Linked DNA regions of Homo sapiens. The protein of the gene in region 1 interacts with the protein of each later gene in a pairwise test. Each region holds a gene or a part of one and is shown on either strand. Other genes may lie near its edges. The genes, in order: TARDBP, TBX22, SOCS6 and TASOR2.

Region 1 (7,028 bases):
TACATTCCCCAGCCAGAAGACTTAGAATCCATGCTTGAGCCAAAGCCTCCATTAAAACCACTGCCCGACCCTGCATTGGATGCTGATCCCCAACCAATTGCTGCACCAGAATTAGAGCCACTATAAGAGTTATTTCCAGAACCGAAGGCCTGGTTTGGCTCCCTCTGCATGTTGCCTTGGTTTTGGTTATTACCCGATGGGCCTGACTGGTTCTGCTGGCTGGCTAACATGCCCATCATACCCCAACTGCTCTGTAGTGCTGCCTGGGCGGCAGCCATCATGGCTGGATTAATGCTGAACGCACCAAAGTTCATCCCACCACCCATATTACTACCTTGATTGTTTCCCAAACCAGCTCCACCCCCTCTGCTATTACCAAATCCACCCTGATTCCCAAAGCCACCTGGATTACCACCAAATCTTCCACTTCTTTCTAACTGTCTATTGCTATTGTGCTTAGGTTCGGCATTGGATATATGAACGCTGATTCCTTTAATGATCAAGTCCTCTCCACAAAGAGACTGCGCAATCTATAAGAAATAAGGGATGTAAACAAAGAAGATTAAACCACTGATTCATATATTTAAAGTAGCAACAAAACTTAGATTACAAGCATTAATTTATCTAAAGCCAGAGGAAAAATAAGCAATGAACACTCATTTCATTTAAACCCCCAATACAGCTTTTAGTTTTATTAACAGCAGCAGTGATATTTCAGTCGATTTTCAAAAGACATAGGCTGGGCATGGTGGCTCATGCCTGTAATCCTAGCGCTTTGGGAGGCCAAGGTGGGAGGACTGTGTGAGGCCAATAGTTCAAGACTAGCCTGGCAGCCTAGACAACACAGGGAGACCCCACCTCTATCAAAAAAAACCACAAAAAAGCCACATTAGCTGGGCGTAGTGGCATGCATCTGTCCTAGCTACTTGGGAGGCTGAAGCTGGAGGATCCTCCCCCTGGAGGCTGAGCCCAGGAGTTCTAGGGTGTAGTGAGCTATGATTACACCACTGTGTTCCACCAGCCTGGGCAACAGAGTGAGACCCTGTCTCAAAATAATAATTTAAAAAATGGGCCGGGAGCAGGAGCAGTGGCTCACGCCTGTAATCCCAGCACTTTGGGAGGCTGAGGGGGGTGGATCACCTGAGGTCAGGAGTTCAAGACCAGCCAGATCAAAACAGTGAAACCCCGTTATCTACTAAAGATACAAAAAACTGGCCAGGCGTGGTGGCTCATGCCTGTAATCCCAGCACTTTGGGAGGCTGAGATGGGCAGATCACCTGAGGTCAGGAGTTCGAGACCAGCCTGGCCAACATGGTGAAACCCTGTCTCTACTAAAAGCACAAAAAAATCAGCCAGGCGTGGTGGCAGGCACCTGTAATCCCAGCTACTCAGGAGGCTGAGCCAAGACAATCGCTTGAACCCATGAGGTGGAGGATGCAGCGAGCCAAGATCGCGCCATCACACTCCAGCCCGGGCAACAAGAGCAAAACTCTGTCTCAAAAAAAAAAAAAAAGTATATAACATTCCCAAATGCCACATACTGAAAATTATCTAAAGGCATATTTACTTTTAGATTTCTTAAAATGTTGTATTTGTGATATCAGATACAGGTATCACAAACATCTAGGCCCATACACCCTACGTCTTACAAGGTCAGAAAACTTAGCTAAGAATAGCAATTAGCTGCATGGGCAATGTTCAAGAGAAATTACCTAATTACCTGGGACATATTTTTTTTTTTGAGACAGAGTCTCACTCTGTCACTGGGCTGGAATGCAGTGGTGTGATCTCAGTTCACTGCCACCTCCGCCTCCTGGGTTCAAGCGATTCCCCTGCCTCAGGCTCCAGAGTAGCTGGGACCACAGGCGTGCACCACCACACCGAGCTATTTTTTTTTTTTTTTGTATTTTAATAGAGACGGGGTTTCACCATGTTGGCCAGGATGGTCTTGATCTCCTGACCTCGTGATCCACCCGCCTCGGCCTCCAAAGTGCTGGGATTGTAAGCATGAGCCACCACGCCCGGCCGGGACATATCGTTAAGGAGAAAAATACCTGATCATCTGCAAATGTAACAAAGGCAAAGGCCCTGAATGGCTTGGGGATGAAGACATCCATCACATCCCCGTACTGAGAGAAGAACTCCCGCAGCTCATCCTCAGTCATGTCCTCTGTACAGCGCCCCACAAACACTTTTCTGCTTCTCAAAGGCTCATCTTGGCTTTGCTGATCAAATCAAAAGGAAGAAAAAAACTCAGAAATATGTTATGAACAATGAAAAAAACATTAAGGTAAGGGATATAACAAAATCATTCGCCTTGGATAGCAGTGAACCATTAAAAAGTAGACGTACCCTTAATTTTTTCCATCAGCATTTCTTTTTCTTGTAAGGCTTCAGTGAAGAGTAACGTTTTAAGTTACAAAAGTACACAGTCATGCATCACATAATGATGGATATAAATACATCATGAGCCATTACACAATTTCATCATCGTGGCCAGGTGTGGTGGCTGACACCTGTAATCCCAGCACTTTGAGAGGCCGAGGCGGGTGGATCACTTGAGGTCAGGAGTTCAAACCAGCCTGGTCAACATGGTGAAACCCCACCTCTACTAATACAAAAATCAGCCGGGTGTGGTGGCAGGCACCTGTAATCCCAGCATCTTGGGAGGCTGAGGTAGGAGAATCACTTGAACCCGGAAGAGGAGGTTGCAGTGAGCCAAGATTGCACCATTGCACTCCAGCCTGAGCAATAAGAGTGAAACTCCATCTCAAAAAAAAAAAAAAAGGGCCAGGTGCGGTGGCTCACACCTGTAATCCCAGCACTTTGGGAGCCCGAGATGGGCGGATCATGAAGTCAGGAGATCAAGACCATCCTGGCTAACACGGTGAAACCCCATCTCTACTAAAAATACAAAAAATTAGCCAGGCGTGTTGGTGGGCACCTGTAGTCCCAGCTACTCGGCAGGCTGAGGCAGGAGAACGACGTGAACCCGGGAGGCAGAGCTTGCAGTGAGCTGAGATTGCACCACTGCACTCCAGCCCGGATGACAGAGTGAGACTCTCTCTCTCAAAAAAAAAAAGTCGTTGTGCAAACATCATATAAACCCAGATAGCATAGCCTACCCCACATCTAGGCTAGATGGTATAGCCTATTGCTCCCAGGCCACAAACTTTCAAGTTACTGTACTCAACACTGTAGGCGACTATAACATGATGGTAAGTATTTGTGTATCTAAACATAGAAAGGGTACAGTAAAAACAGTGTTATAATCCTATGGGACCACTGCTGTACACGAGGTCTGCTGCTGACTGATCAACTTTGCCATGTGATACATGACTGTGTTTGGATTTGAGAAAATTAATAAATAAGCAATCTCTTGGCAAAGATGATGATGTTCCAAATAAGCCAATGTTATTTGTTTGCTTGGAAAAAGTTAGGTCTTTATAACAATTAATGTATGTATTCTGATTCTCTTTATGTTTTAACATATAACTATGTAAGAAACTATTAACTTGACAAATAACCTTTTCTCTTTTCCATCCATAGCGAAAAGGAAGAACAAAATGAACAAAGGTTTAGTTTGGAGAAGTAATAAACTAAATATTTCAAACAAGCATAAAATATTCAGCATGCACTAAGGGCCAAAGACTTCAACAAGACAAAAGGATTTCATGAACACACCCTGCCGCTATCTTTTCTAAGTGTGTTTAACATTTTATCTTACAATCCTCTAAGGAAGTTTGTTGGCAAAAATTCCCAAAGCACAGACGCAAGTACCTTAGAATTAGGAAGTTTGCAGTCACACCATCGTCCATCTATCATATGTCGCTGTGACATTACTTTCACTTGTGTTTCATATTCCGTAAAACGAACAAAGCCAAACCCCTTTGAATGACCAGTCTTAAGATCTTTCTTGACCTAGAAAGGATGATACAAGTTTACTCTAAAAGTGCACATACTCACACACTCCATTCCCAAATCATAGTTCCTTAGAAAACAATTTGAATGGTTTCAACTGGATGCAGTGGCTTAAAACTTAAACCAAGTTAGTCTTAACAGTAAAAACAAGGAGGTTAATATTGAATCCATACTGTGTTAACAACAGAGCAAAACTCACTTATACAACAGAAATGTTTTTGAGTTTTTTAAAAAAGAGAGATGGGGCCAGGCGCGGTGGCTCACACCTGTATTCCCAGTGCTTTGGGATGCTGAGGAGGGTGGATCGCTTGAGCACAGGAGTTCAGGACCAGCCTGGGCAACACAGCAAAACCCTGTCTCTACAAAAAATACAAAGATTAGCCAGGTGTAGTGGCATGCACCTGTAGTCCCAGCTACTTGGGAGGCTGAGGCACAAGAATAGCTTGAACCCAGGAGGTGGAGGTTGCAGCGAGCCTACATTGCACCACTGCACTCTAGAGCCTGACTGACAGAGCCAGACCCTGTCTCCAAAAAGAAAAGAAAAAAAGAGAGGCCAGGCACAGTAGCTCACGCCTGTAATCCCAGCACTTTGGGAGGCGGAGGCGGGCAGATCATGAGGTCAGGAGATCGAGACCATCCTGCCTAACACGGTGAAACCCCATCTCTACTAAAAATACAAAAAATTAGCCAGGCGTGGTGGCAGGCACCTGTAGTCCCAGCTACTTGGGAGGCTGAGGCAGGAGAATGGCATGAACCCGGGAAGCGGAGCTTGCAGTGAGCCGAGATCATGCCACTGCACTCCAGCCTGGGTGACAGAGCAAGACTCCGTCTCAAAAAAAAAAGAAAAAAGAGAAACTGAGTCTGGATATGTTCGCCAAGGTGGCCTTGAACTCCTGGCCTCAAGCAACCCTCCCACCTCAGCCTCCCAAAATGCTGGGATTACAGGCATGAGCCACCACAACAGGATTTTAACAGAATGTCTTAGAATGAATTCAAAGATAAACTAAATTTAATGTTTACAAATTTTAAATGAAATGGAAAAACCTCCCATTAGTTTAATATATAAAGAAAAGCTATTGTCACCTACTTCCCTTAAGCCTTCATGCAACAGTAGGATTTTACAATATCAAAGGCAATAACATAGGGTACAACATATATGTATAAATATAACAAATATTGGAAGTATCATCTGTGTAACAGAAAGGACAGTGCCATTAAAATAACAAGAATGTGGCCGGGCGCGGTGGCTCACACCTGTAATCCCAGCACTTTGGGAGGCCAAGGCAGGTGGATCACTTGAGGTCAGGAGTTCAAGAACAGCCTGGCCAACGGGTGAAACCCTGTCTCTACTAAAAATACAAAATTAGCCAGGCATGATGGCGGGCACCTGTAATCCCAGATACAGGAGGCCGAGACAGGAGAAATCACTTAAACCCGGGAGGTGGAGGTTGCAGTGAGCCAAGATCGTGCCACTGCACTCCAGCCTGGGCAGCAAAGTGAGACTTGGTCTCCAAAAAAAAAAAAAAAAAAGAAAGGTAACAAGATTGTGGCTGGGCATGGTGGCTCAGCACATTGGGGTCGAGGCAGGAGGACAGTATGGGCCCAGGAGTTTGACGCCAGAACCTAGGGAACATAGTGATACCCCATCTCTATTTATACCAATAAATAAATGCTAGATACTCATTCACTGGTAAAGAAAAACTGTTTGATGCAATCGAAGTTTACCTGCACCATAAGAACTTCTCCAAAGGTACTAAAATACTCTTTCAGGTCCTGTTCGGTTGTTTTCCATGGGAGACCCAACACTATTAAATCGGATGTTTTCTGGACTGCTCTTTTCACTTTCACTGCTGATGAAGCATCTGTCTCATCCATTTTTCTTTTGTTATCTAAATAAAACGAGCAGAAACCTTTTAGAAATCTTCACTTAGCACTTCTTTAAAAACACTACCTCCTACATCTAGAAATGAGAAGCAAAAAGAAGACTCTAAGAAGAATAAGACACTGAAAACTTGGCAAGAAGTGATGTTTGCTCTAGAGGACAGAATAAAGGCTTAAGTTTAGTGTCTGAGGTGCTTTTCTGGTGCAAATTCAGTGATTTCCAAGTTTGTTTTTTGTAGCATTTCCGGATTACAATCTCTCCCTCTCAAAAGGTTTATCAAAACAAAAATAATTCTACTTCACTTTGACTTTAAATATCAGCAACTTGTATATCCTGATGAAGATTTAACTTTTATCTTTCCTAAACATTCAACAACAAATACACAACTTTTGTAATAAAACAGAAAACCAGGTACAGTGGTGTGTATGCCTGTAAGTTCCAGCAACTCAGGAGGCTGAGGAGGAAGGACGACTTGAGTCCAGGAGTTTGAGGCTGCAGTGTGCCTATGAATAGCCACTGCAATATGCCTGGGCAACAGAGCGAGAGCCTCCATCTCTAATTTCAAAAAAGAAAAAGAAACCAAAAGTTTGGCTTACTTAAAAAAACATAACTGGCTGGGCGCGGTGGCTCACACTTGTAATCCCAGCACTTTGGGAGTCTGAGGCAGGTGGATCACAAGGTCAGGAGTTCAAGACCAGCCTGGCCAAGATGGTGAAACGCCGTCTATACTAAAAATAAAGAAAAAATTAGCCGGGCGTGGTGGCAGGTGCCTGTAATCCCAGCTACTTGGGAGGCTGAGGCAGGAGAATCGCTTGAACCCAAGAGGCGGAGGTTGCAGTGAGCCAAGATCGTGCCACTGCACTCCAGCCTGGGCGACAAGGGCGAGACTTCGTCTAAAAAATAAATAAACAAATAAAAATAAATAAATAAAAATACAAAAATTAGCCAGGCGTGGTGGCAGGCACCTGTAATCCCAGCTACTCATGAGGCTGAGGCAGAGAATTGCTTGAACCTGGGAGGCGGAGGTTGCAGTGAGCCAAGATCGTGCCACTGCACTCCAGCCTGGGCGACAGAGTGAGACTGTCTCAAAAAACAAACAAACAAACAACAACAAAAAAACCCCCCAAATAACCTCAACCTTAGGTTATTTAGAAGAGAAGGGGAGATAATTTTTTTTTTTTGAGACGGAGTCTCATTCTGTCACCTAGGCTGGAGTGCAGTGGCG
Region 2 (7,025 bases), on another chromosome or scaffold:
AGACATGGCTTTAAAATATTAAAATAAGTTCACCAATGTGAAATACACACTTGCATCATTGTGTTAAAATTTGTAATTGAAAATTTGAATACAGGGTTGTATTTAAGATTTTCTAGAGAATAAAGCCTAAATTTCATCAAAGTATAATTATTGTAACTGGTTCAATAGATTATTCTTAGGCTAACATATATGTGTAAATTCATTAAATTAATAATTGTTTGCAAGTTAATATCCAAAGTTATCTCATTGGGCTCCCTAGGTGATGATGTGCTAATTGCCCCTGGAGCTGGCCACTTGTATTTTTTTAAATAGAGGTAACTGGCAAATCTGGACACAGTTAAGCAATTATGCTAAGTAAGAGAGAGAATGCTGTCTGAAATTCTAGCCAACAATTATCCATTAATCATGTCCAATATTTTTTTTCTATGGATGGTAAAAAATAAACCGCCTAAACTCTCCCAATTTAAAAATATGAGTGGCATTTTGTTACATTCCGGCAAGGGGAATAATATCAGAAACTTCTTGGCTTCTCACAAAATAGTGTTTTTAATAAATCGATGGCGCCCTGGATCATGGTCTTTCAAAGGTCATGCTGGTCCAGGAAGATACTGGGAAGCTGAATCACAGGTCGGATGATATAACTGGGTAATAGGGATTCAGAGGAGCACCGGAAAATGGCACTTGTGCTTTGACTTTCTAAAGTGTTTGTAAAACGGCCTGTTTGACCCAGACAGAGCTTTACTATCACAGGAAAGTGCTTTTGGAGTCCCTGATGAGTGCAGCAACCTCACCCCAAACTTTTGAGCACATCTTGGCGCCCAGAGCAGCCATTCGCGACCTAAATTACTAAGTCAAGATTCAAGCTCTACAGCAGCAAAGGTCCTGTGAGGTACGCTTGGCTGGAAGAAAGCTAGGTATCTGGCTCTGCCCAGAAGGCGCCCGCTCCGCAAACTGCTGGGAAGTTCTGGTTTGTTCCAAGAGTAGCACCAAGGAGACAAAGGAACATGCAAAATAGGATAGCTTATGCTGGCTGCAAGAAGCTGCAGTCGGGTTTTTGCCCCTGGGCCCTCTGATAATCACCGCAGGGACTTGGGGCAGGAGCAGGCTATTGGAATGATGGCAGACGGTTTAAAATTCCTTACTTGCTGATCCCTGAGCAGTGGTCTTGTAGAGTCACCACAGCACTGGAGATTGGCAGCTAGCTCCACCACTAATGTGCTCTCTTAAATCTCGATTACTTGAGGCGGATAATGGAAGAATGAAGTTACCTACCTGATTTGTTATTGTTGCTGCTGTGAGGTTTAAGAGTTAACATGTAGCAACATGAGGATTAAGAGTTAACATGTAGCAAGATAGCAAGCTTAAAAAAAGAAAGAGAAAGACAGAAAGAATGAAAGAAAAGAAAGAAAGAAGGAAGAAAGAGAAAGAAGAGAAAGAAAGAAAGAAAGAAAGAAAGAAAGAAAGAAAGAAAGAAAGAAAGAAAGAAAGAAAGAAAGAGGTAGTGGTTATTGTTGGAGGCCTCACACCTGTGAGTGGTATCGCCCCAGAACTCTGTCAAAGTCTCCTGAATCTTGAGAAGCCAAGCCCTTGTTCTCTTCTATTGGGCTGCTTCCTCGGGTACGACTTTGTAGGAGCCACCAGGAATTAAGTGCACCTGCTAAGGTCATGAGACAAGATGAGCCTCTTTGGAATGCCAAAATTTGCCCCCAGCAGACCGCACTGCTGCGTCTACCCAGGCAGTATACATCTAGCCCTTCACATGTAATCATGTTGAATTGAGTTTTTGGCAACACTTGTCCCTGGCTAACTACCTGATTCTGCGGAGCGTCAGAGCCTGGTCTCTCAAAAGCCCTCTCCCCAAAGGCCAGAAGTGAAGTTTCCCCCGGCCGTCATGGCCCTGAAACGGAGCACTGCAGAGCTCACAGAGGGGAGTGGAGATGGGAAGAAAGACACTGTTTCCTGAGTTGCCTGGATAGGATTATTTATGACGTAGCCACAAGCCTCTTCTGCTACAGCAGGCGGAGACCTTGCCACCTCAGGATTATGCTGCCACTTGCACTTAGCCTTCTTCCCGCATATACACACCCAGCGACATAAAAAGGGCACTCCTGCCCTGAGTTTGGAAATGATGTTTTGTGATGAGAGTCTAGTCCTGGTGGCTCACTCCTCACTGTCTATTGCTCACCGGCACGGAAAACTCTCTTTCATTCATAAATAATTGCCTTGCGCATTACTGTAGAAGAAAACTTAGTTAACAAATTCCTTTGTTTTGCTTGTGAAGTTACCAGATTTGGTTAGTAATTGCCTGCTTGATCAAAAGCCATTTCCTTCGTGGTTAACCAAACATCAACTTGTCTCTGTTGGGCCCGTTTTAAATATCACCAAAAGTGAACAGCCCCAATTACGACAGGAAACACATTTCCCGACATTAAACAAGGAACAGAAACAGATTTGTCGTGTTTCAAAATGCACATAGTTCTATGGATGGGCTCACATGCTGTTCTTATTTGCAACCTTCTCTCCCTAAACAAACACACAGGAGCGCGAAGACACAAACACATTCTTCTTTCAGTGGGTGTAGAAGGATTCTTGGAAAATCCTGTCTCTGAGTTATCTTCAAAAATGGCTGAAACTTATTACTGTGACACTTTTTAACTTGAAAATCAAGATAAAGTAAAGGGGAAAGTCTAAAATAAAATAAAATACAATCACTATTTTACTTTTCTTGAAAGAAGGGAAAATATTTGCCAGGAAAAATACTTTAGAGAGACTGTAGTCCTCTTCAGACATTTAAAACTTTCACATGAGATAGTAAAATAAATTTAAAAATTAAAAAATAATCCCTTGAGTTTTTGTGTGGTTGACTGTGAGCTGCAAATCTCAGGAACACCGGAATGCATTTATAAACCCATCAGAAATATCACCGTCACTATTTGGCATTCAGTATTGATAAGAAATGCGTGGTCCTCCTTGGCCTCTGGTTTTTCAGGCAGGGTTATAACAGGCATTATCTGCTTCAGGGGTTTTATTTGGGAAATCCCCTGGGTCCTTCCTAGTTATCCATGGCACTGCGGTGTGGTAGCCCAATGCGGGGTAGCTGGGGTTTCCTGCATTACTTGAAAGGTATGGTGCTCTCTGCAATGGAGAAAATAAATTTAAAAGCTATAGAATTCGTCCAATTAAACCGCACTAATCCAGAATCTGTCTTCTCTTCTATGAGAGCCTCTTCACTAGAGGATAAAATGAGCATTGATTTTTCAAGTACCTATGGATCACTTATTGCTAGTAAATTCTTCTGACTTAGGGCCTTAAGCCCTTTTCGATTCTCTCTGAGCTGCCCTGGAGAAATAAACCAACAAGTAAAAATCAAACATGTTCTATTTTGCAGCAGAAAAATGTGTCAGCCAAGACATTTCTGGGATTCGCTGTGCATTAAATTGTGTGTGTGTGTGTGTGTATATGTGTGTGTGTTGGATCTTTCCTTTAGGAGGTGTAAAGTTTTGTTTATGTGGCGCTTGCAGACTGAGAGGGGGATCCTGGCCACTGAGAGTCTCTACACTGCCTGGGAATCACTGCCTGAGGCTGAATGGGTCTCTTAGTGGATGACTCCAGAGCTGAACCCCTTGAGTGGAGCTTCTGAGCTGCTGTTGTTGATTGAGGATTGAAAAGTGTTTTCCAACTGCAAGTGCTCCTGCTGGGCATGGAAATGAGCTGACTAGACTTGTAAAGTCAATCCACTCCTGCTTCAAAGGCATTTTTTCCCAAGTGCATTAGCCTGTAGCTCAGAGCAGGATGCAGCCAGGTATGGTTGCAACCGGGAGGCTGAGGTAGGATGCAGGGTGCCTGCAGCCTTGAGGCTCTGAAAGCTGAAATCACAGACTGTCATTGTGACTTCATGGCCAACCTTGAGTAACAGCAGGTCTTCTGTGGGAGAAGTTGCTGGAGTCCAACCCCGGAAGTAGCAAGTGCCTCTCCCACAGCTGAGGGCCAGAACACCACGTTCTCTTGTGCTCTGGCTCTAGGCCACTCTTCTCTGGGCTCTTGAGAAGAGCTGCTGCAGGCATTTGCAGAGTGAATGAGCTCTGACTGAGACTTGACTTCAGAACCACTGGGCTGGCCTGGCCTCTTGACACAGCAACACACTGCTTCTTGCCTTCCAGGTAAATACCTCTGCCTTACTGACCATGTTATGGGTTTTAGTGGGACATCAGTACAGGGATTCTCCTCAGCCTCTTCCTCTCCTGTTAACTATCACTAACCAAGTCCCTAACATTAGGAAAGTCCAACTGATAACTGTCAGTTTCATCTTTCATTAACTGGGGGTTTTGTGACAGAGATCTTGCAATCACTACTTCTCGGGGGACTGGAAGTAGAATATTAGTGCTCTTTAAAATTAATGAAGGCTAGACTTGTCCAGTCTGTTAAGAGTATGCTGTAATACCCAAAGAAGCCAGCAATAGTCCCTCTCCTAGGCAGCAATGCAGCCAGAAGGCTCCCAGGCCCAGGATACTATGCATTAGTGCTCACAGATCTTGTTTAGGGAGCTAGGGAGCAAGGGGAAGGGACGGGAGTGCCTCCTGGAAGGTGAGGACTGAAGCCAACGTGGAAGTCACTGAGCTGAGTGGCAGGTGTCTAACACTGAAAAGTGGCCCTAGCCAAGGGCTCTAAGTAGTGGTACTTTCTACCGAGGCTCTTCCCCAAGGAGCTCTAGATCCACAGAGGCAGAAGGATTATTTGATCTTCTTTGCACTCATTTGATTTCAGGAGGAGGTCTGAAGTCCCAAAGCATGGGCATTGGGGTGAGAGAGGGAACATCAAAGTGTGCCAAAAAAGATTGTTTTATTTTACTTATTCCTGATTTTTCTTACCAGAGCTTGAGCTCATACACCGCATTGTAACACAAACACACAAGCACACATACCACACACACACACATGCCTTCAAACTAGAGAAGGGGACTACAGAAAGCACCTGGCCATAAAAGGCATGTCAAGGAGTTTGCTGTAGGGTGGTGATATGGTTGCTTTGTTTCAGTTCAGCAGACTTATCTCCATGAAGACCTTATTGTTTTCTGTGATTTCTCTTTTGTATTTTTTAAAATTTGTCTTTATTTCTTAATTATTAAAACCTTCCCTTTTGCCCCTCGGAGCATTGATCAGGGTTTACTAACTACAAATATTTACTTCATGAAGGAGCAGTTTTTTCTCTAGTAATATTAATGTGGGGACCCTGGGAAGGAAGACAGTGTATGAAAGAAGGCATAGATTGGCTTCAAGCACAGGCAGTATAGGTGTTTGCCTATATTTGGTGTTTTGATAGACTTAGGGAAAATCCCTCAGCCTACTACCAAATATTTTTGAGTGTCAGTACATCTGTGGTTGTTAGGTATTGAAAAGCCCTGATTAAATACAGATAATTATGAGAATATGGAAAGAAGCCTTTAGTACCTTATTCGCATGTCCTAGGAATGATGAGGTAGGGTGCCAAGTTAAGAAGAGGAAAATATATTGTAAATATCCAGGAGTAAGTAAATAGTGAAAAGATTAGCACGAGATTTGGTGGGCCCAATGGAGTTCAGGATGATTTCTTTCTTAACAGAAGGATCTGCTTCTGTTGGGCTCATGGCTGCCCAAATTAGGCAGAGCCAGATGATGACTCACTGATCTGAGAACTGAGTGGAGTCATTTGGTGAGAAAGCGTGTGTAGGGGAAGAGGGTGTAAAGCAAGCATTTTTCTAGTTTTAGGAAGATAAAATAATTCCTCATAAACAGTATTTTTTTTCAATAATTCATTGATGCAATTAACTTGGCATATCTCCGTTCAAGTGATCTGAGCCAGTGATATTTTGCTATATGTCTGAATTATTTATTTTAAAATATCAAACTGGCACCTGCAGTCATTTTTCAAATCCTAGCCCACTTTCTTTGAGGCTGATGCATATAGCATATTTGGAGGTAACTCTGACTCTCATCCTCATTTTTAAAAAGGCAGCATGATGCCAGGTGCGGTGGCTCAAGCCTGTAATCCCAGCACTTTGGGAGGCTGAGGCAGGCAGATCACCTGAGGTCAGGAGTTCAAGACCAGCCTGGCCAACATGGTGAAACCCCGTCTCTACTAAAAATACAAAAATTAGTTGGGCGTGGTTGAACACGCCTGTAATCCCAGCTACTCAGGAGGCTGAGGCAGGAGAATCACCTGAAGCTGGGGGGCAGAGGTTGCAGTGAGCTGAGATTGTGCCATTGCACTCCAGCCTGGGCAACAGAGGGAGATTCTGTCTCAAAAAAAAAAAAAAAAAAAAGCATGAAAAAAAACAAAGAAAAGGAAAGAGGAAAGATGGGGGTGGAGTAGGTAAAAGAAATGTATAAGGCATAATACCCAAGTTAAAATGACCTAACCTAAAAATTCACATAGCACAAACTCTACCCATGAAAAAATATTATGTCCAGCAGTCCTGATTGAGCCTTCAGTTAATATATGACTGTGCAAGTGCCAATGGAGCACCAGAGAGGTAACATAAAAAGGAATAGGTTTGACACTAGTTTGGTGTTGTTTTTGTGTGTGTGTGTGTGTGTGTGTGTGTGTGTGTGTGTTTTCTTTAATTTTGTTCATTAGGTTTTGTAGAGACAGGATCTTGCTATGTTGCCCAGGATGATCTCGAACTCCTGGACTCAAGCTATCCTTTTCCCTCAGCCTCCCAAAGCACTGAGATTACAAGTGTGAGCCCATATACCTGGCCTTAAGCTCAATGTTTTAATGGAGAGTGTTTGAGGACTAAAAGAGACAGGATGCATTTATAATTATTTATTATTTTCACTGCTCCAGGAAGTCAAAGACAGCTGAAAGGTGACCATACAATGCCTCTTCTGGCAATTACTAGAATCACCATAGGGTAGAATTACATTTGGACTTTCAAAAAGGTTTTTTCTTTTTCGTTTATTCATTTATCCTGCTCAAAATTAGCCACGTACAAAATTGTCCCCATAATTCTGGTGGCAAATTTCCTAGGAAATTTTTAAAAATTCTAT
Region 3 (7,028 bases), on another chromosome or scaffold:
CCAATTTGTACCCGAGTTTAATTACAGAAAAGGCAACAATTTCTAAATTGGTGGTATACATTTCTTTACAATTTTTTAATGTAAGGCCATTTATTAAAATAGACAAACTAGAAGATGAAAACGAAGGCAACAGAAAAATTCAACTTTTCACAACCAAAAGAATTAGCACAACCTTAGAAATAATTTAGAAAAAAGTGTTGTTAAAAGATATGTTGCAGATCTCCGTTCCATTACCCAAGATTATGTCAATTCACGATTCTAAATAAATCTTTTTAAAGTAAGAGATTAAAAACTCATCTTCAGTGTATATGTAAATTCTGTGTTTTATCACACAGGTATGTTTATTCAACACTGTCTTTTGAAAATGGACCATTTAAAAAGACATAGCAATTTCCATTCTGTTAAGTTTCATTCAACTTTACTTAGGGTTGAATACACATGAAATGTGCTTTTAATGCATAAAAATCACAGTGGATAGCAGCAAAGGACTGGGCGGGGGGGGCATTGAGGAGAATTTGATAATTCACATTGTGATTATTCTGCACATTGATGAAACATAATTCACACCTCTAAAACCTCAAGACTTCCCTTTTTTAAAGAACCAAAATAAACCCAAGACACCTTGCTGACACTTCCCCACCCCTAAACAAACTGATGACTCTTTTACACATAAAACTGAAATAGTTATGGCAGCAAAAGATTTTGATGGCAATGAAAGTTTGTAAACTGTATTTCAATCTCTTGTTCTTATTCCCAAAGTGCAAGATGCAGGGTTCTCAATCTTTCAGTAGTGCTTCTCCTGTAAATAATCCTTCATTTTGTTTGGCAAAGGCAGTTTCTGAATTAAGTCTATTCTGGTATACTGACGTATAACAAAACGACACAGGTACTGCAACGAGCGCACCTGCATGAACCGGGACACTGGGTTGGTCAGTCTGACGGGGTAAGTTGCAGATCCAGGCAGCCGAGACCTTGAATAACAAAAAGCTCCATTTTCAGAGTCCCTGATTGAATGCTCAATTAGATCAACTATGGACGTATGTCCTTCCACATCTGGCTGTTCATAAAAGCTAAACCTACCATTTGAGTGCTCAATTCTAGTGTGAAGTGTTTTACCATGGGAGCGAAAGCTCAAGCTTAAAAGGTAACGGTCGTCAGAACTGTCCCGAACAAGAAAAGAACCATCTGGCACGTTTGCTAGCTTCCCTTCTGCCTCCCAACGTGTGATTGGTCCCCAGTACCATCCTTGCTTTGCAAGTTTTTTCAGCTCCTCTGTAAGGCTTGTCACAACCATGGGACCACTACTTTGCACTGAGTCATAAACTCTTGCAACCCCAGGAGCAGAGTTCGGATCAAAATTCAAATGACAGCGCATACTTTCAGCCACGTGGGCTTCTGTGCCAGTGAGTCCACTGAAGTTCCTTTGGATTTGATTATTCTGCATTGGAGGTAGCAATGGTGAGAGTGGAGGGACATCATCGTGACCCGCTCTCGGGCTCTGCAACATGACTCCCGTGGTGCCAATCAACAAGCCATTCACGGACTGATCCACGAAGATCTCTGGGGCGACAACTAGGTCCTGGTCTACCTGACTCTCATCCTCGGGGAAAGCGCGCCCTCCCACTTGAGGAGGAACCGCAGAGACTTCCATGGGAGAAGAGCTGTCCAGACAATAGCTCCGTGATCCTTCCAAAGGATACATCCCCTCATCTAAAGGCACAGTATACTGAATGTAGTCCTGAGGCATAAGTCCAATAACGACAGGCACATGTTCATCCAGGTGAAGATGCAGGTCTCCATTATGAGAAGCCGAGCTCTTCAGTGAATTGGCTTGCTCCTGGCACGTGGTCTCAGACTGGAGGTCGTGGAAATCCTTCCGGACGCCATTCAGGGCTGGACTCGGGCTGGAAGAGTGAACCAAGGCCTTGACTCTCACCTCCATCTTGATGCAGGTCTCCTCGGAGTTTGTGGGCCGCAGAGGCCACGGCGCGGGACTGTAGTGATGGCTGCGGAGCGACGTGGACCTTATCGGCCTCTGAGCTCTCACGTCTTTAAAGACTATGGGTGCTGAGGAGGAGGAGAAGGTGTCCTCGTCGGCAGAGCTCCCAGAGGGTGTGCCCGCCTTGCCTTTTGACTTCTGTTTTGCAGAAAGCCGCCTTTTTAGCGTACCCATCAGGCTCTCGCTTTTTGATCTGTTTTTTCCGCCTTTTTCATCTTCACCGTTGATATCGCAGCTGGCCATATCTTTACCATAGCAGCTACCAAATAAGGAATCATCTTTTCCAAAGTCACTGGCTAGCGATGGTTGTTGTACTACCATGAAATCAGTTTCTTCTTTACTTTTATTCAAGTTAAAAGATTTCCGTAAGGTTTTAAGACTAATTTTCTTCATTATGACTAGTTACCTAATCCAAGGGATCAATATTTCTATCTGGAATATTATCCCCAAACATCTGGAGAGGCTGCAAGGCTGCATCTATGTATTTTTCCTGCTTCATTTAACCTTTGGAGCCATTTTCTAAAAAATAAAAATATAAAAAGAGTCATATTAAAAAATATTTCCACAAAAGTTTTGTTTTAGTCAGTTTTAATCCTTTAACTTCTGAACGAGAACACCCCAGTCTTTTCTTAATGTCAGCTCTGTTAGGACCGGGCTTTCTTTCTATTGCACCCAGCAGAGCAGATCACTGCCTACTACACAATGAGCATTTGGCAAGTATTTGATGATGTTTACTTTATTATTATTATTATTATTATTTTGAGATGAGTCTCACTCTTTCGCCCAGGCTGGAGTGCAGTGGCGTGATCTCGGCTCACTGCAAGCTCTGCCTCCTGGGTTCACGCCATTCTCCTGCCTCAGCCTCCCAAGTAGCTGGGACTACAGACGCCCACCACCACACTCAGCTAAGTTTTTTGTATTTTAATAGAGACGGGGTTTCATCGTGTTAGCCAGGATGGTCTCGATCTCTTGACCTTATGATCCGCCCGCCTCGGCCTCCCAAAGTGCTGGGATTACAGGCTGAGCTACCATGCCCCGCCCGATGATGTTTATAAAGAACAAGCCTGCATCTACCTTTTGTTCTTTTGGCACCTTGCTTTTTGGTATAAACTCTAACGTGTGGGCCAGTGTCCACATCCTTCCCAGCTGGACTCTAGCTAGACCTGTGCACTCCTTCAGCACTGACTCCGACTGCTCCTCCGCTGCCTGCCATGTCCCAGCCTGTGTCCTGGCACGACAGTAAAGGCGTTCCATAGAACTGCAATAACAAGCCTAGTCAACTCAACAACTGATGCATATTTTAAATACTTAAGCTTGTGTCAAAATAAACAAAAAGAATTTCATTATCTGTAATAAACTATCTAGAGATGTTCCTCTATACTCGAGAATTCCTTGAGAACAAGAATCATTTACCTTCAAGTTCCCAATGCACAGAGGAGGAAGAAGCTCAATGCGCGCAGGTTGAAAAGCTTCATCTCTGAAGTACACCCATAAAAACCCATGTGTCTAGTTTTGATCTATTTGGAAGATTATGAAACATATTTCCAGAATTATTATTGCTTACTCTTCTTTTTTTGCAATTTCCCATGGCAAATTTTTACTTCTATATCCAGAAATATATTTTCTAAACTTTTTTTGTACATTGTTCTACACTGAAATGACAGGATTTCAATTCTGTAAAGACTTTCTGAAAGTCATTTCACAGCAAAAAATCTTGGTTCCATAAACCACGTTAAGTGATCCTAACACTACTTTACAAAGGCCCTGTGTTTAAACTGTGTAGAATGTTTTCTTTCCTCCAACGTCATGTTCTGCCTTCTCTGCATATGACTTGACAAGGTGATTCGCTTGACTTGAGCGAAATGCTAATAAAGCCCAGAACAAGATTCTGACCTCCCAAATCAGCAGTTTAGCGCCACTCAGTTTCTTGGCACAAGACTATGGCTCTAGCTTTGATCCCATTCATGAATTCACTCTGCCTTTACTAAGCCCCTACTCGGCCTCTGCTGAGTCAGCTTGGCTCAGCCCTGTGTGGCAATACACAGATTGATGAATAACTGATGGTCACCTAATCCAGTAGGAGAGACAGATGTATGAACAGATAAACTGTAGTATCAACCCTTCAGTAATATAATGGTACACAAGGTGGGAACTGACAGGAGAGAGAGAACCTGACAATTGTCCCCTTTTAGTTACAGATAGGATTCGGGTGGTGTGCAGATGGAATCATTCTTACTAAAAACCACTCAGATTAGACAACCTATCAGGGGATCAGTACTATCATGTCCCCAAAAGGAAGAAGCAATTTTTAAAAGTCTACTGTCATGTACTATGTTTCTGAATAAGTTGTAAAAAATAAAAAACTTAAAATATTTGAAGCACCAGTTACTTTTAAATAATAAATGAAGTTGTATATTAGGTGAACTCAGTGTCTTAGTAGCATGTCTTCTACCCAAGCATAATGAACTATTATAACTGCCAGAATCAGTAACTGATTAACCCTACTAAATGTGAGATTCAAATAGTTGTGCTTCCCACTATCACACCCATACCCCAAAACACGAGAGACTAGCAACCACGGTAAAAGTACTTGGCAATTACCTGCTTGAAAATTATTCCTTTTTCAACTACCAATCCATATTAGTAAGCTATTAATCAATACTAATATTAAAGAAACAAAATTCAATCCTAGACATTACAAACTATAAAAGTTCTATTAGGCCATATGGTCTTTTATCTCTTCCCTTCATATTCTAGGCAAAGATTACTCTAAAATTTTTAAGAGTATCTGTTTTTCTGTTTGCACATCCAAAAATATATGCCATCTTTTTATAGGATTACCATCTGTCTCGTGCCTAAGTAAATGTTCTGAATTAGTTTTACTGCTTTTCTAATTGTAAAATTTTAAGTTTATACATATACTTGAAAATGTATATAAAGTTTCAAGGGAAAAAGCTTTAGACATAAACTTTATCCATATGGGTAAAGGATAACTTCTTCAAATAATTTCAACCTTTTCTTAAATGACTTGAGGTAGTCATGTCTGTCAGTCATCATAACACATAATGAAAAAATTAAAAAGATCAAACAACTACTTAACCTTCAATAAACAAAACAGCTTTATTATCCCCATTTTATAAAATGAGGAAACTGGTTATCAGAGAGACTGGAATTTGCCCAACAAAGTTAAACAATTTGCTACTAGCAACAGCAGATCCAGAATCTGAACCTGGCTGTTTATTTGCAAAGCTCACATTCTTCCCCTATGCCAACCTGTCCTACCTGTCATTCTACTGCTTACATCAGTGGTTCTCAAACATTCTGGTCTCAGAACCCCTTTATTCTCTTAAAAATTATTGGAAGACAGGAAGAAGCATTGTTTATGTGGGTTGCATCTCTTGAAATGTACCCTACTAGAAAATAAAACCGAGAGGCGGGGCATGATGGCTCACTTCTGTAATCCCAGCACTTTGGGAGGCCGAGGCGGATCACCTGAGGTCAGGAGTTGGAGACCAGCCTGGCCAACGTGGTGAAACCCCATCTCTACTAAAAATACAAAAAAAAAAAAAAAAAAATAGCCAGGCATGGTGGCGTGTGCCTGTAATCCCAGCTACTCAGGAGGCTGAGGCAGAAGAATTGCTTGAGACTGGGAGGCAGAGGTTGCAGTGAGCCAAGATTGCGCCACTGCACTCCAGCCTGGGCAACAAGAGCGAAAACTCTGTCAAAAAAAAAAAAAAAAAAAAAAAAAACTGAGAAAATTTGTTATTTATTTATTTATTGAAGACACAGAATCAGAGTCTCGCTGTGTTGGCCAGGCTAGAGTGCAGTGGTATGATCTCGGCTCACTGCAGCCTCAACCTCCTGGGTTCAAGAGATCCTCCCACCTCAGCCTCCTGAGCAGTTGGTACTATAGGCACGCACCACCACGCCTGGCTAATTTTGTCTACTTTTTGTAGAGATGAGGTCTATGTTGCCCGGGCTGGTCTTGAACTCCTGGCCTCAAGCAATCCTCCTACCTCAGCTTCCCAAAGTGCTGGGATTACAGGTATGAGCCACTATGCCCAGCCTAATTTTATATTTATTTTAAAATGACAATATACTCATTACATGTTAACATAAATAACATTTTCATGAATGATAATAAAAATCAGTGAAAGTGGTACCACATGACATTACTGTAAATCTCTTCTGCCTGACTAAAGGAAGACAGCTAGACTCTCATATCTACTTCTGCACTGAATCTGTTACAGTACAGTAGCCCTCTCTTATCTGCAAGGGATACATCCCAGGATCCCCTGTGGATTCCTGAAACCACATATAGTACAGAACCCTATATCAAGTATACTTTGCTTTTTTCCTATACACACATACCTATGATAAAGTTTAATTTTTAAGTTAGGTACAGTAAGAGATTAATAACTATAACTAATAATAAAATTAAACAATTATAGCAAAATATTGTAATAAAAGCTATGAGAATGTGGACTCTCTCTCTCGCAAAATATCTTACTGTACTGCACTTAGCTGTCTTCAGATGACTATCGACTGTGGTAATTGAAACTGTGCATAGGGGACTACCTGTAAGAAGAAAATTCAGCCTCCTCCAGATACATAGTTGGAAAAAGGAACAATATATTTTATTTAATAACCTTTTCATATAACTATGGATATTTTTCTTTGATACTATATCAAAACTCAATGAATAATAGTTTCTTAATGATAAATTGCCCTGTAAAATCTAAAACCATAACACAAAATTTTTTTACTCTATAACATTCAAACCCATTGGTCATGCCTATAATCCCAGCACTCTGGGAAGCTGAGGTGGGTGGAACACTTGAGGCCAGGAGTTCGAGACCAGCCTGGCCAACATGGTGAAACCCCGTCTCTACTAAAAATATCAACATTAGCCAGGCATTATGGCTCACACCTATAATCCCAGCTACTCTGGAGGCTGAAGGAGAATCACTTGAGCCCAGGAAGCAGAGACTGCAGTGAGCTGAGATCACACCACTGCACTCCAGCCTGG
Region 4 (7,028 bases), on another chromosome or scaffold:
TCATTCTCTCCTATCTTTCTATGAGTTTTCTGTCTGGTTTTCCTGATTCTACTTTCTCCCTCATCTATTACTAGATGTTACTATCTCACAGAGAGTGAGAATTCAGAGAAAGAAATTGGATTGTTGTTTTGTTTTGTTTTGTTTTGAGATAGAATCTCACTCTGTCACCAGGCTGGAGTGCAGTAGCACGATCTCGGCTCACTGCAACCTCTGCCTCCCAGGTTCAAGCAGTTTTCCTGCCTCAGTCTCCCGAGTAGCTAGGACTACAGGTGCATGCCACCACGCCTGGCTAATTTTTGTATTTTTAGTAGAGATGGGGTTTAACCATTTTGGCCAGGATAGTCTCAACTTCTTGACCTCTTGACCTCATGCTCTGCCTGCCTCGGCCTCCCAAAGTGCTGGGATTACAGGTGTGAGCCACCACGCCCAGCCAGGTTTGTTTTTTTTAGTTTTTTTGTTTTTTTTTTCAACTTAAGCATACCCTGAGATTCTTTAAGTTTTTTCAGATTGTTTTATGACTGAAGATTTTTTTAAAAGCTCATCATGTCATTCAAAAACCCATATGCTGCAGTTTTGGCTTCCATACCAGATTTGAGCTCTTCTGCTTGTCCCTCTCGGGAGTTTATGGTGTGGCTGTACCTCCCCTCTCTGCGTTGTGCCTCTGCTGTTGCCACCGTGCTCCTTCCCCTGCGGCCCTCTGTGCCTCCCCCAGGCAACCTCTGCCCTTCAGGGGCCTGCAGCTAGATTTATCCCCACAGGGAGGCGTTTTCTCATGTTGTGACTGTAACTAATCTCTCACTTCTTTGGGATATTTGAGAACATTCTATAATTTAATTCATACTGTTTTCAATTCATCTGACATGTCTTGGTCCAATCTTTCCAATTTGTAAACATGAGAATAGGTAACATCTTGTGTTCCTAGCAGTGTCATTTGCATTCTTTGTACTGAATTGGCTTCAGATGTTTATTGACAAATTGATTAATGCGAGGAGGTATATAATTGCATACTGGCAGAAAAGTGAGCCCAGAAAATTTAAAGTTTCAAAATGTGTGTTCAAATACAGGCTGATTTGTATTGCAAATGTCTGTAGGTATTGTGCAGCCACATTCCAAGTTAACATTTTTGAATGACTACATTTAAATCTCTGAATTTTTTTCTTAAGCACCTATGTTAATCATTTTACTTCTTATACTTAAAATATCAACGTTTAAGAAGGCAGATGAAACATAGCCACATTGACCTCAGTTTGCAAATTACTGATTTAAATTAGAATCAAATGATAATTTTGAAGTCAGACAGTCCTTTTGTTAATGAAACATGATTTTCTGTCCTTTTTATTCACTGAACTTTTTTTTAATGTAGTTCCTTTGGCATTGTCTTATGTATGTCTTAAATAGAAATTATGGGTGGTGTTTTTTTAATTGGGAACCTGTAACACGTTAATAACTGGGTGATTTATGTGAGACTATAATATGTTAAACTACCATTTTTCTTTATTTTAATACAGTATCTTTTATATTAGGCCTTACTGGTAAGTAATATTTTGTGTAAGGGATAAGTAGATGGAGGCCATAATATTAACAAAGAATGAAATTAGCATCAGATCACAAAATTAATTTTATGTTTCCAGTATACCTGTGGGACTAACAAGACAATTATCTGCTTTGGGTCCTTTTCATCCACCTGTCCCCTTTGAGTTTGCTGTTTTAAATAAAAACTGGGCAGTCGTTGATCAGTTTAACCCTTTCCCCATGTATGTGCATGCCCTTGTCGTTCTAATTGATGACATCATAGGCTGGAGCTGTCTTCTCTTTAAATGTGTTACTCATTGGCCTTGGCTGGCAGGTTGTTAATTCATTTTGGACCTGCTACTATGATAAAGAGGAACATAGTTGGCTTTTCTGGTCATCTGTCTACCTGCAGCAGGGAATCATTGCCTAGCAGAGTTGTGAAGTTTATCCTTCATAATAACAGCATTTAGGAAGGAATAATGAATACGTTGAAAATACCAAGGGAAACCACTGGCAAATGTAAATGTTCTGATTAAGGGCATATGGATAGATTTGATTATCTGTAAAAGGGAACATTGTCAGTAGATTTGCTCTTTCTTGGATAATGTAAAAGGTCAATGTTTTTGGTAATGAAAGTAAAATTTTAAAAGGTAATGGAATTAATTGATGATTCTGAATACTCTTAGGACTTTTCTAATTTTTTATTTCTATCACATCATGTAATTAAAGATCAATATAGTTAAAATCATTTGAACTTAGGTAGTTTCTCTAATAAATCGCTTGTTCAGGGAAATGGTTCCTGAGAAAGTATGTTAGCAAACTCATACACACTTGAAACTTCTACATTCCTGTCCTTATTAGATTGTAAGCTCCCAAGGGCAGGACTCTCATCTTTTTTGGGTTTTTTTGTTTGTACATTTTTTGAGCTGAGCTGTATGTCTTCTGTGTAGATCAGTTCATATGTTTTTGAAGGATAATTTCTTTCTAAATTAATGTACACATTCCTTAAGACTTGTCCCTCTGGTTTAACACATTATAATCTGAGGGTTGAAAGAGACCTTAATCCAATAGAAAATTTTAATATGCAATATGTATAACATAAGTTTTATCTGAGGGTTGGAAGAGACCTTAATCTAATAGAAAATTTTAATATGCAATATATGTTACATAAGTTTTTCTCAGACATGTTGAATTAACCATCATAGTAATATGGCAGAGAGTTAATTCTATGACAAGCAAACATCTCTCTTTTTTTTTTCTTTTATACTGAAGTCAAAGGAGAAACTGCTTCAAAGCTTCAATCAGAAATTTCAAGAGGTTGTCAAGAAGATGGGATTAGCATAAATAGTGTTCAACCAGAAAATACCACAGCGGCTCACAATGATCTTCCTGAAAACTCCATCGTCAACTATGACTCCCAGGCCCTAAATATGTTAGCCGATCTAGCATTAAGCTCTGCTACTTCTTCCACACCAGTATCTGAGGCTAGAAATCTTCACTGTTCCTCTGAATTGCCACAAAATGATGTTTTGCTCTCTAAAGAAAATTCTTTGCGAGGTACATCTGACCATGAATATCATAGAGGAGTTAAAACTCAAAAAGGTGAATTACTACCTAACCCATCTTCTGATAGGAAGAGTAATTCTGGATCAGACTTAACAGTTAGCCAAGATGAAGAAAGCTTGGTTCCTTGTAGTCAGGCCCCTGCTAAAGCCCAGTCAGCACTTACTGAGGAAATGCTAGAATCTTCAGATGCAAGCCAAAGCTCTTCTGTTTCTGTGGAACATTCATATGCCCTGCTCCTTACAGAACATTCAAAGAAACATCTACAGGAGAGAGAGATACTAAGCCCTCTGTTTCCCAGGAATGGGACAAAAAGCCCTGAAGCAGCAACCCCAGTGGGGAAAGTCATGCCATTTCGGCATCAGCCCGGCCTTTTGCTTCAGCAAAAGCCTCCTGACGACCCCGTGGTGAAGCCCAAGGATCGACCACCGTCTGCCCGTGTGAAAAAATCTTCTTGCTCTCGTATAGTGCTTAGCTGTGATGACTCCGTTAAGATCACTTTCAAATGTGAAACAGAATATGCATTCAGTTTAGACAGCAAATATACCAACAACCCACTGGAGAAAACTGTAGTAAGAGCATTACATGGGTGAGTATGAGTGAAACTTAGTGAAAATGGATGAAACTTTTCTGTTGAGATGAATGTAGTGAGATGGGGAAACTTATGCCAAACTCTGGAGAAGGAGAAAGAAGTGTTGTGTTTAAAACCAGTAATTTGATAATAACATCAAGCAAACATGTTTCCTGGCAATTAAGAGTAACAGGCTGGTTTTCCCCCTGTGCTCATGTGGAGAAGTTTTTAAAGATAATTTTAGCCTAATGAATAGCTTTCCATTTTGCAATGCTCCCTCGTAAGCCCTTGTGGCTTTTGAATTTCAATTTTTAGATGAGATCTTAATGTAAAATAGTGTGAGATTTAGAAATAATGCTTTACAGACTGAATTCCAGAAGAAACATTTTAAAAATCACTGTAGCTTGGTAAATTGGTCAGATTGATAGGAGTAAGCAGTTTCACATAAGATTGTTCTATAGATCTCCCTTAAGAAGGAATCAAGTCAGTAATAACAGAGTGGTGAACAGCACAGGCTTTGGAGTGTAGACTAACCTAGATTTGAACCCGGGTTCTTTCCCTTTCTTACCTCCTGTGATCCTGGGCAAGTTTCTTGCTTCTGGACAGTGCTTCTTAATTGTGTGTGCTGCTCATCTAGAGATTTCACTGAACTGCAGATTTTGATGCATTCTCCTTGGGAGAGGCCTGACATTCTGCATTTCTAACAAATTTTCAGGTGATATCAATGGTGGATGACAGTCTGTGGCCAACATTTAATTATGTAGCTGTGTCCTGAGGTTACATATATTGAGATGCACAGTGACTGGCCAGTAGTAGTAATAAATGGTAACCATCACTGTTAGCAAGCATTCATTAGCTATATGAATTGACATTCAGCTCCCTATTAATGAACTGTTTCACATCTGACTATATGGACTCTACAGCTGTCAGGCTTTCTTCTATACACCTGTTCATATATACTCATAAGGGTCATTTCCTTAGAACTTCCTGTTTAGCTATTGCCCAACTCTGCAGCCCCCCTGACTTATGGTACTCCAGCGATCTGCCATCCTTTTGCCTGCCAGGTGGCCAGAAATGTTTTCTATTTCCCCTTACTGTTTCAGGATATTTTGCAGAACTGTAGTCTGAAAATAGTATAGTTCTGTTGAATTGCCCAGAGAGATATTTTATCTTCAGACTTTCTCAATTATTAGAAGAGAGACACAAAAATGGAAAATAAATGAATCAGCCAGACTTAGCAAAAGCATGGTGATGAGGATTTGGGTATTGGCGAAACCATTTCTATAATAAGTATTCTGTGTCCAGAGTGAATTTGTATGGTGTAAAAGACACGTGCTACCCATGTTCAGATCATGGTTCTGCCATACAGGTTTTGTGATTTGAAAGAAGGCAATTACATGTTCTGATTCTCAGTTCCCGTCTCTGTAAAATGAGTGGGTTAGATGGATAATTATTTGTTAAGTCAACTACATATTTACTCATTCATGTTTCATATCTGTAAATTTTAAAAATAAAAACAAAAACTAAGGAATATTGGAGGCACTTGCTTATGATAAGGTAATCAACTAAAATAACCATTTTCAATGATTTTCATGTGTTCTTTCTGTAAACTCTTAGGCCCTGGAATACTGATTTGCCTGATAATGTGGAAGAAGTGAAGCTTTTACTTCATATGTGGGTAGCTCTGTTTTACAGCAATCAGAACAAAATCATACGATCTTCCCGAAAGGTTGTAGAACACAGCAACCCAGCAAAATATGTGTCTATAAATAGCACGTTAGAATCTTGTGAGCTCCGTGAAATTGAGGAGTCCCTTGGTTTGGAAAAATGTTCTGCAGACTCTCTGTTGGAGACTAACGAAATTTCCAGGGCTCATGCTGCTGAAGTATCCTTCCGTGATCCTAACTGCTTGCTTCCTTTCATTAAAACACCACTTACCCAAGGCTTGGAACTCTGTGTACAAAATGAACAGAAAAAAACTTTTGCAAGAGAGTGTGATCCAGACACCCAAGAAGACCAGAATTTCATCTGTTCTTACAATAATGAGGTATGTAAAGCTGAATACCGTTAAATGTTGGCATTATTTTTGAAGAAAAAAATGTTTATATGTAAAATCACATTCAAAACAAGGCATTTTTAAATTTTAGGACAGTGAATTCTCAAGGTATGTAAAGAACTATTACACCAAAAACCTAGTTTTCATGAAGTGTCCTTGAATTGTCTGCAGGTAGAGCTTACCTGCCATCCCGATTGAAAAAAACCAGAGTAGAAAAATGTCACAGGGTCCACATGATCTGGGAGCCCAGCATAATTTGGGGCAAATTGCTTCTTTGCCTAATTTTTAAAAGAGGTGACTTAATACCTATCAAGTCTTATGTAGAATATTGTTTAAGGATCAAATATAGCAATAATAAATCTTAGATATACTTTGATAAACCTTAAAGTAAACTAAAATTAATTGTATTAAAATTATTTTTGAAGACAGATGCTGGAATAGTAAAATGCCAGACCTGTGAAAGAAGACCCATTGCAAATAACTATTTGTAAATATGGAAAATATACTTTGTTTTGTTCCTTGTTCTCAACTGACATTCAACCAGGCCAGATAATCCAAATTTTACCTGGAGCAAATCTAAAAGTTGTTAACAAAATTCTAAGCAAATGAATTGACAAAATTACCTACCTTTTAAAGTTTTCCGCCCAAATTTATTCTAGAATAATATTGCTTGGGTTTGGGCAGCATCTCTGATTCCTGTCTTAAGAAAGAGTAGACAGTGTTCCTATACCCGGGGTCACCGGGGACTTGGAGGTCCTTGGGTGAGCCTCATAGAACCCGTGAATATCTTCAAGTGATTGTCATCATCATGAGAATTAAAGATTTCTGGGTCACTGTGTGCCAGAAAGTAAGAGTTCTAAGCCCTTCACTCATATTAACTCAGTTCATTCTCAAATAAGTTAAAGACTATTAATCTCCCCATTACATAGATGACGAGACTAAAGCATAGAGAAGTAAAGAAATTGCCTAAAGTCACATAGAAAATTGTCAAGCCAAGATTCCAGTCTAGAAAACCTAAATGTTAACTATGTATGTGCTTTTTTTTTCCCCTAAAGATGGGGTTCAGCAGTTCCATCCTATTCTCAAAGAATTACATAAAATCCAGTTAAGAATCACCACCTTAGAATAAGAAAATATAGTCTAGTCAGGGAGATTTAAATTAATACATATATACATGCTAGTTTCTTATAAAATACCATTTGTCGTGGTAATATGTAATTAACTATCATCAGTACTAATTTTAGCAATGATTTTGGCAAGCCTGACTGTTCAAATCAGTGATTCCTAACAATCTCCTTAGTATGTACTTACGTAGGCTTTTGTTTT

What was found.
Region 2: the proteins of TARDBP (region 1) and TBX22 interact in binary tests that used the Homo sapiens proteins (3 or more experiments, as listed by UniProt).
Region 3: the proteins of TARDBP (region 1) and SOCS6 interact in binary tests that used the Homo sapiens proteins (3 or more experiments, as listed by UniProt).
Region 4: the proteins of TARDBP (region 1) and TASOR2 interact in binary tests that used the Homo sapiens proteins (3 or more experiments, as listed by UniProt).

What each region holds. Positions count from the first base shown.
Region 1 is NC_000001.11:11,015,626-11,022,653, reverse strand, and holds part of TARDBP (TAR DNA-binding protein 43), read right to left. Parts: intron 5,811-7,028; coding exon 5,647-5,810; intron 3,922-5,646; coding exon 3,781-3,921; intron 2,226-3,780; coding exon 2,055-2,225; intron 531-2,054; coding exon 1-530. UniProt on the Homo sapiens protein: RNA-binding protein that is involved in various steps of RNA biogenesis and processing.
Region 2 is NC_000023.11:80,010,728-80,017,752, forward strand, and holds the start of TBX22 (T-box transcription factor TBX22), read left to right. Parts: upstream 1-4,025; 5' UTR 4,026-4,160; intron 4,161-7,025. UniProt on the Homo sapiens protein: Probable transcriptional regulator involved in developmental processes. This is major determinant crucial to palatogenesis.
Region 3 is NC_000018.10:70,320,033-70,327,060, reverse strand, and holds part of SOCS6 (suppressor of cytokine signaling 6), read right to left. Parts: intron 5,459-7,028; exon of another isoform or gene 3,413-5,458; intron 2,519-3,412; 5' UTR 2,393-2,518; coding exon 785-2,392; 3' UTR 1-784. UniProt on the Homo sapiens protein: SOCS family proteins form part of a classical negative feedback system that regulates cytokine signal transduction.
Region 4 is NC_000010.11:5,736,834-5,743,861, forward strand, and holds part of TASOR2 (protein TASOR 2), read left to right. Parts: intron 1-2,784; coding exon 2,785-3,664; intron 3,665-5,263; coding exon 5,264-5,693; intron 5,694-7,028.